2 separate regions of the Homo sapiens genome follow, and region 2 is linked to region 1. The links come from fine-mapping of genetic effects on gene expression. A gene starts in region 1. The other region holds a variant in brackets. All regions are shown on one strand. Distances are from middle to middle. Region 1 holds the start of CEACAM1 (CEA cell adhesion molecule 1). Region 2 overlaps PSG3 (pregnancy specific beta-1-glycoprotein 3).

What was found.
Region 2: its variant is fine-mapped to the expression of CEACAM1 in whole blood (TOPMed, PIP 0.93).

The regions. Positions count from the first base shown.
Region 1 is chr19:42,526,452-42,531,829 of GRCh38, forward strand. It overlaps CEACAM1 (CEA cell adhesion molecule 1), which reads right to left and starts at 2,030. Exons shown (of 9, transcript NM_001712.5): 1 at 1,860-2,030; 2 at 590-949. The coding sequence starts at 1,923. The region is part of intron 2 of LIPE-AS1 (LIPE antisense RNA 1); the gene reads left to right. RefSeq lists enhancers at 2,038-2,107, 2,330-3,192.
Region 2 is chr19:42,722,279-42,727,656 of GRCh38, forward strand. It overlaps PSG3 (pregnancy specific beta-1-glycoprotein 3), which reads right to left. Exons shown (of 7, transcript NM_021016.4): 6 at 1,664-1,747. The coding sequence ends at 1,704. Among named protein-coding and RNA genes, the nearest start is that of PSG3, 16 kb to the right of the region's middle. The variant T/C (reference allele first, on the strand shown) is at 2,277.

The DNA.
Region 1 (5,378 bases):
CTAAGGTGAAGGATGAGGCTCCATCCTTGCCCAAATGAGGCTCTAGTGCCTGAACCCTGGCTGGTTACCAGCTCCAGGAGCCACAGCCCTCGGATAGCTCAAATTCTTGTTCCTAGTCAGCCCTGCCCAGGAGGCCACAATCTAGCCCTGGCCCAGGCTCCTCAGGGTCACCAGGAGTTGAGAACCTTGGGATAGTGTTTTGGAGCAGGGGATTCCCAGGGCTGAGCTTGTCTGTGAGGATCCCAGAAGGCCCTTCAGGCCAGACCCTGACTGAGTCCTACTGGGTCTTTCTTAGGGACATGTTCACCAGGAGGGTCCCGGGGGGCTAGATTGAGACTGGTCTCCCCTCGATAAGTTACCCACATCAGATTGTCCTTCCTCTGAAGCAAATGTCTGCAGGATCAGGACTCCAGAGTAAGACATTCGGTATTTTGATGTCTGTCCCATAGTGTGTCCTGCACTAGATGCTCAAACCTTAACATGGGGTATAATGCAGAGGAGGACACAGGCACAGCCCAGGCCTGACAATCCCATGTGTGGGAAGTAGAACTAACCCCCCAACACCCAGAGGTCATGGGGAAATACTCACGGTATACATGGAACTGTCCAGTTGCTTCTTCATTCACAAGATCTGACTTTATGACTTGTAGGGTGTAGAATCCTGTGTCATTCTGGGTGACGTTCTGGATCAGCAGGGATGCATTGGGGTATATTGTCTCTCGACCGCTGTTTGCGGGCCCTGGGGTAGCTTGTTGAGTTCCTATTGCATATCCTACAATTTGACGGTTGCCATCCACTCTTTCCCCTTTGTACCAGCTGTAGCCAAAAAGTTGCTGGGGCAGATTGTGGACAAGGAGAAGAACCTCCTTCCCCTCTGCAACATTGAATGGCATGGATTCAGTAGTGAGCTGGGCAGTGGTGGGCGGGTTCCAGAAGGTTAGAAGTGAGGCTAGGAGAGAGGAGAGAGCATCAGTCAATATTGGGACCTATGCATTAGGGTAGAAAAATGGGGCCTTGGGTCCTGAGCAGGTGTCTTCACCCCTCCACCTTGGAGTGTGTGTGTGTGTGTGTGTGTGTGTGTGTGTGTGTGTGTGTGTCCTACTGGGTCAAGGTCAGCAGTGTGACTCCCATTCCCTTAGTGCCTCTGACCTTGTCATTTCTCTGGAATGCCCTTCCCCAGGGATCCGCATGGCTCCCTCCCCACTGCCCTCAGATCTTGATCACATCAGGGTGCTCTTGGGAGATCCTTTCCCTGACACCTCCCCTAGAGACCCTGGGTATTCCCTTTCTGACCTTTTTCTGCTCTGTTCCCTCCAGGGCTCTTGTCAACACCTGACCTCACATTCTAGATCTCTTTGCTTGTCTGTCTTCCCCACCCATGAGAGCGTGAGCTCCGTGAGGGCAGGGATTTGTGTGATGTTGGTTGCACCCCAGTGCCTGGGATAGGCTGCAGACTCCTGTGGATGAGTTAGTGAGCATTCCCAGGGCTCTTCATGTCCTGGGGTTTATTTGCCAATATCTGAGGTTGGTGGCTCAGGGCTCTGTTTAATGCCCCTTTTAAAATGTTTTCCTTAATTGTCACGCTGACTTAAATTGTGATTATTGTCAGCAGTTTTTGAAATTTATTGCTCATTGATGATTCAGTTGGAAAAGGTAAAAAATGGGAGATTGTTTATTCACTAACAGTTTCAGATCACTGAGACTTTCCTTTTATGATCTCTATCCCTTTCATGTCCTCTCTCCTATTTGGCTCCAAGAGAAGCCCTCTGTCCCCTCTTAGAGCTCCATCCTCCCCAGAGGACCCTAGCCATTCTCTGTGCGCCCTCTTTCCGCCCCTTCCCAGGGTGTCCTCCCCTCACCTGTGAGCAGAAGCCCCTGCCAGGGTACACGCACTCTGTGAAGTGGGGCTGAGAGGTGCCCCATGGTGTCTCCTGCTGGCCCTGTCTTCACCTGTGGAGGAGAGCTTGGGCTCCAGGAACGCTTCGAGCACGGCTGCTCTGTCACCTCTGCTGTTTTCCACTCTCTGTGCTGAGCCTCCTCCCTGGGGCCCAGAGCTTTGTCTGATCATGTGTGCTGGGGCGGGGTTTGTCCAGGAAGCTCTGTTTCCTCTCCTCTCATTCCTACCTTTGTCCTTACTTTCTCTTTCCTTTCTGTCTACATTTTGGTTTCCCAGACCACACTTTGAGAATCAAGGCTGATGAGACCTCTGTCCCCATCAGGGGAGGAGGATCCCCCCTCTCCAGCACTGACCTCTATTGTGTCCTGGCTATGGGTCTGTCAGCAGCACACAGAGAACCCTGGCATATCCAAATGTGGTAATTATTTTCTTTGCAACACAGTGAGCTGCCAGGTCTCCCCATGCTCTTCAGTGTGCTGGGAAGGTAGGAAGACACCCAGCAGGAAGGTGACAGAGGTGGCTCTGGGGGATGGAAAGGGGCTCACTGGGGGATGACTGGGGAGGGACCAGCCCTCTGTCTCTAGTGTCACCAGCCTGGCCTCTAACCCAGGGACAGAGACCCAAGTCCAGGGGTCTCAGGTGGAGCTGCAGCTCCCGGATATGGAGGGGGAGGTGTCCTGTGTGTCCTGGGAAGAGAGGACTGTGATAGAGGGAGGTGGGTGGCTCTGGGCTCTACTGTCCTTGGGGAAGACTTCAGGGGGACCCTCCCTCCCTTGAGCTGAGGCTCAAGGCCTGTCCATGTTCTCCCTGACCATCCTGGGTGGTCTCTGTCCTCTGCGAGGCTGATTGTCCTGTGGTCACCGCACCTTCCCCACAGGTGGTGCCAGGAGGGAATGGGGAGCTGCACAGGGACCCCTCACAGAACAGGGTCCTCAGAGGACCCAGGAAGGGACAGAGCAGGTACATGGGAGGGCCTGGAAGGGTGTTTTGGAGCAAGGGATGGAAAGTGGGCTCTACCTTCACCTCCTTAGCAAAGCCAGGTTCATGACCAGGGGAATGTTTCCTGAGTGTTGTCTGTGTGCAATGTCTCCCCCTGGAGGGCAAGACAAGGCCTGCAGCCTTGTCAAGGGCTGCCCCAGGGATGCTGACCAGGGTCTACATGATGTGAGCTGGCCCTGACCCCTGGGCAGATGTGGGCTCTGACCTCCAGGCTTCAAGGTCAAGTCACCCCAGGTCCTGTTCACTGCGGGTCCCCAGGCTGCCCAGCTCCATGCGGTGCAGGATGAGCCCAGGGAGAGGACGTGAGTTGTCCAGAGGACTTCTGTCAAGATTGGAGAGAACTGTCCACCAGGGGGATGGGCTGCCTTAGAAGGAGCCATCTGTCCCAGAGGTTTGAAAAACAAAAGCAAAAACAAAACAAAACAAAAAAACAAAGGCCCAGTGAGGTGCCTTTGGGGGCTTGAGAATGAAATCCTGTCACATGTGGCAACATGAATGGAAGTGGGCTAGGAACAGAAAGTTAAACATCACATGTTCTTACTAATATGTGGAACCTAAAAACAGTTGATCTCATGGAAGGAAAAAGTAGAACAGAGCATACCAGAGGCTGGGAAGGGTAGAGGAAGGGAGGGACAGGGAAAGATGTGTTAAAGGATATAAAATTACAGCTAGATAGGCCGGGCACAGTGGCTCATGCCTGTAATCCCAGCACTTTGGGAGGCCGAGGCGGGTGGATCATGAGGTCAAGAGATTGAGACCATCCTGGCCAACATGGTGAAACCCCGTCTCTACTAAAAATACAAAAAATTAGCCAGGTGTGGTCGTGGGCACCTGTAGTCCCAGCTACTTGGAGGCTGAGGCAGGAGAATCACTGGAACCCGGGAGGCAGAGGTTGCAATGAGCCAAGATTGCACCATTGCACTTCAGTGTGGCGACAGAGTGAGACTCCATCTTAAAAAAAAATAAGGCCAGGCGCGGTGGCTCACGCCTGTAATCCCAGCACTTTGGGAGGCCGAGGCGGGTGGATCATGAGGTCAGGAGATCGAGACCATCCTGGCTAACAAGGTGAAACCCCGTCTCTACTAAAAATACAAAAAATTAGCCGGGCGCGGTGGCGGGCGCCTGTAGTCCCAGCTACTCGGGAGGCTGAGGCAGGAGAATGGCGTGAACCTGGGAAGCGGAGCTTGCAGTGAGCCGAGATTGCGCCACTGCAGTCCGCAGTCCGGCCTGGGCGACAGAGCGAGACTCCGTCTCAAAAAAAAAAAAAAAAAAAAATACAGCTAGATAGGAGGAGGAATAAGTTCTAATGTTCTATACCACTGTAGGATGACTACAGATTTTTTTTTTTTTTTGAGACAGGGTCTGGAGTACACTGCAGCCTCAACCTCCTGCGATCAGGTGATCTTCCTGCCTCAGTCTCCCATGTAGCTGGAACTATAGGTGCACGCCACCACGCCTGGCTAATTTTTTGTTTTATTTTTCAATTTTTTTTTAAATAAAGAGACAGGGTATCACTATGTTGCCCAGGCTGGCCTTGAACTCCTAAGCTCAAGTGATCCTCCGCCTAGGCCTCCCAAAGTTCTAGGATTACAGCCACCATGCCCAGCCAAGTGTTTTGATTTTTTTGTAGAGACTGATCTTATTATGTTGGTCAGGCTGGTCTCGAGCTCCTGGGCTCAAGCAATCCTCCCGTCTCGGCCTTCCAAAGTGCTAAGATTATAGGTGTGACCCACTGCAACCGGCCTGACTATAGTTAACAATAATATATAGTTCCAAGTAGCTAGAAAGGGGATATTGAATGTTCCTAACACAAAGAAATGCTAAATGTTTGAGATGATGGATATGCTAATCACCCTGACCTTATCACTGTACCTTATATGTATCACATCGCTATGGACCCATAAATATGTACAATTATTAGGTGTCAATTAAAAAATACAATTAAAAAAGTCATTTAGAGCTAAATCATGATGTGAAATGTTGTTTTCTTACCTCTCATCTCATGACAACACTTGGCAATGGCAAAACATCCTCAGGAGTTGTGGCTGTGTGCTTTACTGCACAGACCAGTTTGTTTGTGAGAATGTGTCACCTAATGCGAGTGAACCTACATGAGATCATCACCCTTCCTGGGGGACCTCAGAGAAGAACTGAGAACCGCTGGCTCAGGTGTGTGGAGGAGGTTGCAGGTGAGTCACTTGCTGGAAGGAAGGTCTGTGGGCCAGCTTGAGGAGGAATCCATTTGTAGAGGCCACTGGATGGGGCCACCTGGGCCTGGGTGAAGAGGGCCTGAGGGCACAGGACAGGGGGAGAGAGAAGGTGGTGCACATCGTCATGCAGGCAAGTGCTTTAAGTGTCTCTTCATTCATTCATGGCAGGCAACTCACACTTTAACATAGCAACTCAGCAAATAAAATGAGGATATTGACTGGGCGCGGTGGCTCATGCCTGTAATCCCAGCACTTTGGGAGGCTGAGGTGGG
Region 2 (5,378 bases), 200 kb after region 1:
CTCACTCTGTCACCCAGGCTGGAGTGCAGTGGTGCGATCCCAGTTCACTGCAAGCTCCGCCTCCCGGGTTCCTGCCATTCTCCTGCCTCAGCCTCCTGAGTAGCTGGGACTACAGGTGCCTGCCACCAAGCCCGGCTAATTTTGTTTTTGCATTTTTAGTAGAGATGGGGTTTCACCGTGTTAGCCAGGATGGTCTCGATCTCCTGACCTTGTGATCCGCCCACCTCGGCCTCCCAAAGTGCTGGGATGACAGGCGTGAGCCATCGCACCCAGCCTAGAATACTCATATTATTAACATTCCCATAAATATTATTTAGAGGAGGTTTAGCATCACTTATCACTTATTTGAAAATGCTTTCTATATAATTTAACTTATCAAATAAAGTGGCTTTTCCATTCAGCTTCTGTTTGTTAACTGGATTACTGAGTTCTTGGTGTAGCCCATTCATAAATAGGGCCAAAAAAGTATAGTCTTATGTATGTTGAAAAAGGTCCTTAGGTAATTCCAGTACTTCCAGCTGAACATCATTGATTTAGTTTTAAGTTCTACCTATTACAACAAGAGTTCTCCATCCTTGTTACATGTTAGTAGTGTCAGGGAAGACTTAAAAATTACCAATGCCTGGGTCCCTCTCCAGACCTTTAAACTGGAACTAATGGGTGGGGCTTGAGCATCCACTTTTAAAAATGTTTTCCAGTGATTCCAATGTGTAGCTCTATTTCCCATCAGATTTCTCTGATTTCTTGTGGCATTCAATTTTTTCTATTTTGGTATCATGATTATTTTCAGGTCTCATTTCCTGTCTTAGGCTTTATGTCTCCTGGCGTAGGGACCTTGCCTTCATCATTTCTGTATCTTTTTTAAACACATGAACTGGTCATCAGGAAAAGATCTCAACCACACATAGGTTGTGTTCTGAGTCTCAGGTTCACATGTTAATCCTAAAGTCTTAGTTCTCCACGAGGTCAGATGTTGCTTGTGATGAAGGGTGTGGTTAAGTCTGCAGTGCAGATGGTAGAGGGGATTTCACTCTGTTTTCAGACATAGCATTGGAACTAAGAATTTTATATCTATATGGGTGAAGGGACAGGGGTGTGTAGGAAGACAGTTCTAATTAGGATGGAGGAATTATACTAGGAAGTAGCGGTAAAGGAAGTGAGAAGGCTTAGTAAATAGAAGAAATGTGAACTTATCAAAGTGGCTAGAGTAGACCCCTGGAGATTCTTGATTAAGTGAATTAACTAGATTTTAGAAAGGTAATGAGGCAGTCATATGCAAGGAAGATTTCAAAGTCTGGAGACAAGAAGTCAAGCAATACTTTGAGAAGTGGTTGAGCTTTATGGGAATGGAGAGAATTACACTATTGAGAGATGTTAAAAATAATGAAGAGGGTTTCACCATGTGAAATTGTGTTTTTCATTTGAATCTGAGAAACAAATGAGCAGAGAGAGAGGCTGGAGATAATTATGTCTAAAAGACAGTGGGGTACAGGGAGCATAAAGGCCAGGGAGAAAGGGAACTGCAGGAATTAGTGCTGAGAAGCAGGAGTTAGTGGAGGAAGGAGGAGATCCAGTCCCAGATACAGGCAAATAAGTCTTTTCCCTCTCCCAAGCATGGCAGTTAGCCCTGCAGGAACCAGGATAAGAGGAAAGGTCATCATACCTGCCAGTCTTCCTGAAATACAGAAATGACATCACGGCTGCTATAATGGATTAAGGCCAGGAAGATGTCCTGTTCCTGAAGGAGCTGTCATGGAAAAAAAAGAAAAGAAGGAATGAAGATGATGTTATTTTACATGGGGGAGCCTCAGGAACAAGCATGTAACATGAGGTACTCTATAATTGTTTCTTCAAGGACTACGTTATTTCTGTTGGAAAATTGATAGGAGATGATTATATTCTTGCAGTTTTTTTTTCCCTCTCACCCTGTTTCTCAGTTGGTGATCAGTCCTCTGTCAATTCTCTACTGTGCTCAGATATTTGGAAGGCTTTCAGATGTGAGAAAGGCTGATTGCTATTTTCTATGTCATTAGAACTTGCCACCTTTGCACCTTTTCATGGTTGCATCTTTTTCTCAGTGTCTCTGTTGTGGCAGTCATGAATGAGACCCTGCCAGGTCTCCATGGCAGAGACTTGATTGACAGAAGGCCCAGGTCAGTGCATTTCAAATTCACCACCTCCTTTGCACAGAAAGCTTCTTTCCTACAGGCTCCCAGCAAGGGCGTGAAAGCAAGTCTAGTTCTCTGAGGCTCTCTTTAACTCTAATGGGTGACTGG[T/C]TGGAGGATTCCCCATCAGCCTTGCAAAAACTCTTATAATTGAATTGGTACCTAAAACTTCTTTCTCTTTCTTTTTCACAGGAATCAGCTCTGCATAGTGGTCTGTGGGTTCTCCCGTACTACCTTCATGCCTGCCCCACATTCCCTCACAGGTGTCTTCCCTGATAAGTTATCTTGTATGTCTAATCCCATCTTGGATGCATCTCAGTCAGTAAAAACTAACATACCAGGCTTGATTCTTTGCACTTAGCTTTTTTTCTTTCTCTCCCACAAGTAGTCAGTAACCATGTCCTAGTGTTTTATGTGTTACCTCTTTTTCCATATATATATATATGGAAAAAGGAAGGTACTGTTGAGGGGCACTTCCTATGTGCCAGGCCCTGTGCTAAATACTTTCCCTGTATCTCATTTAATCCACACAATAACCCTGTGAGGTAGACATTATTTCCATTTTGCCGATGAAAAGACAGAAGCTTAGAGTGGTGTAAAACTTTCCTGGTGTCATATGGCTAGTGACAGGTGGATCTGAGATTTGATTCTAGGACTATTTGACCTCTAGGCTAATGATGATGGTAGTCATATAGCAGCTGACATTGGTTCCACTGTGTGTGGCATCTCGTTTTATTGACTGCATTAAACCTTTAAAAGAAAGGTATGAAGAAAGCACTCTTATTGCAGTTTTCAGGTGAGGTATCAGAGGTTCAGAGAAATTGAGTCTTGTGCAAGAAATTTATAACTGTAAACTCTTACATTAAAAAAGAAGAAAGATCTCAGGTCAACAACCTACTTTAATACTTCAGGATATGAAAGAAGAACAAACTAAACCCAAGCACAGTGAATGAGGGAAAAATAAGGATTAGAGTGGATATAAATAAAATGGAGAATGGAAAAAGAATAGAGGAAATTAATGAAACCAAAAGTTGATTCTTCAAAATAAAATCAACAAAATTGACAACCATTAACTAGATTGACTAAGAAAAAAAGAGAAAAGTTTAAAATTCCTAAAATCAGAAATGAAAATGGACTCTGAGCATGGTGGGTCATGTTTTAATCCTAGCACTTTGGGAAGTCACAGCAGAAGGATTTCTTGAGACCAGGTGTTTGGACCAGCATAGGTAACCTGGGGAGACCCTGTCTCTACAAAAAAATAAAAAAGCCAATTAGCTGCGCATGGTGACATGCACCTGTAGTCCTAGCATCTTGGGAGGCTGAAGAAGGAGAATTACTTGAGCCCAGGAGGTTGAGGCTGCAGTGAGCCATAATCACACCACTGTATTCCATCCTGGGCTGGCCTACAGAGTGAGAGCCTGTCTCTCTCTCTTCAACAACAACAACCAAAAAAAAAAAAAAAAAAAGAAAAAAGAAAAATGAAGCGATTACTACCAATTCTAATAAACTAATGATTATGAAAGTACTATAAATAATTGTATGCCAATAAATTGGATAACCTAGATGAAGTAGACAAACCCCTAGAAACACACAAAAATATGAATGGAACTATAATCAGTAATAAGATTGAATCAATAAAACATTTGATGAAATTCAATATTTTTTCATAATAAAAACTTTCTAAGAAGGGAAGGAAACCACCTCAACGTAAAGGCAATATGTGAAAAACCCAATGCTAACATCATACTCAACGGAGAAAGACTGAAAGCTTTCCCTGTATGAGCAGGAACAAGACAAGGGTGCCTGCTTTTGACACTTTTATTCAACATAGTATTGAAAGGTCTAGTCAGAAAAATTAGGCAAGAATTTAAAAAAAGACGTTAAAATTGGAAGGAAGGAGTAAAATTATTTCTGTTTACAGATAACTTGAACTTATATGTAGAAAATCCTAAAGATGGAACAAACCTATTAGAATTAATAAATAAATTCAGTAATGTTGCACAATACAAAATCAACATTCAAACATCAGTTGTATTTCAATACACTAACCATGAACAATCTGAAGGGAAATTAAGAAAAAAAATTTCAATTTATATTAACATCAAAAAGAATAAAATATTTAGGAATGAGTTTAACCAAAGAGGTAAAATGATTATACCTGAAATCTACAAAATATGGCTGAAAGAAATGAAAGATGACATCAATAAATTGAAAGACATTTTGTTTTCATGAATTGGAAGACTCAATATTGTTAGGAGGACAGTGCTACCTGACGTGAGCTGCAGATTCAATAAAATTCCTATCAGAATCTCAGTGACATTTTTGCAGTAAAAAAAAATCTGTCCTAAAATTTATATTGCATCTCATGACTCTAAATAGACACACAGCTTTGAAGAGGAAGAATGAAGCTGGAGGACTCACACTTCCTGATTTCAGCATTTACTACAAAGCCCCAGTAATCAATACACTGTGGTACTGGCATAAAGGAGGACATAGAAATTAATGAAATATAATAACCCAGAAAGAAATGCTTGCATATATGGCCAAATGATTTTCATCGAGTGTGCCAAGATCGTTCAATGGGGAAGGGACCGTTTTCTCACCAAATGATATTGGGAAAGGTGGATATCCAAGGGCAAGAACAGTGGAACCTTTACCTAACACCATGTACAAAAAGTAACCCACAATAGATCAAAGATCTAAATGTAAGGGCAAAAACTATTCAACTCTTAGAAGAAAAGCTTCATGATACTGGATTTCACAATGATTTCCTGGTTGTAACAACAAAAGCATAGGCAACAAATAAAATGGATAAATCGGACTTCATAAAAATCAAAACCTTTTATATATCAAAGAACACTATCAAGAAAGTAAAAAGCAACCCACGAAATGATAAAAATATTTGCAAATTATATGTGTGATAAGAAATTAATTTCCAGAATACATGAAAAGCTACAAGTCAACAACAGCAAACATCCAAAAACCCAATTAAAAAATGAACAAAGGATTAAAATGGAGTTTTCTCCAAGGAAGATATACAAATATCAAATAAGCCCATGCAAAGTTCCTCAGCATCAGGAATACTTGGAGATATGCAAATCAAAACCACATTGTTACACCACCTCACACACTTTAGGATGGTTTTGATAAACAACAACAATGACAGCAACACAAAACAACAGGTGTTTTCAAGTAGATGGAAAAATTGGAGCT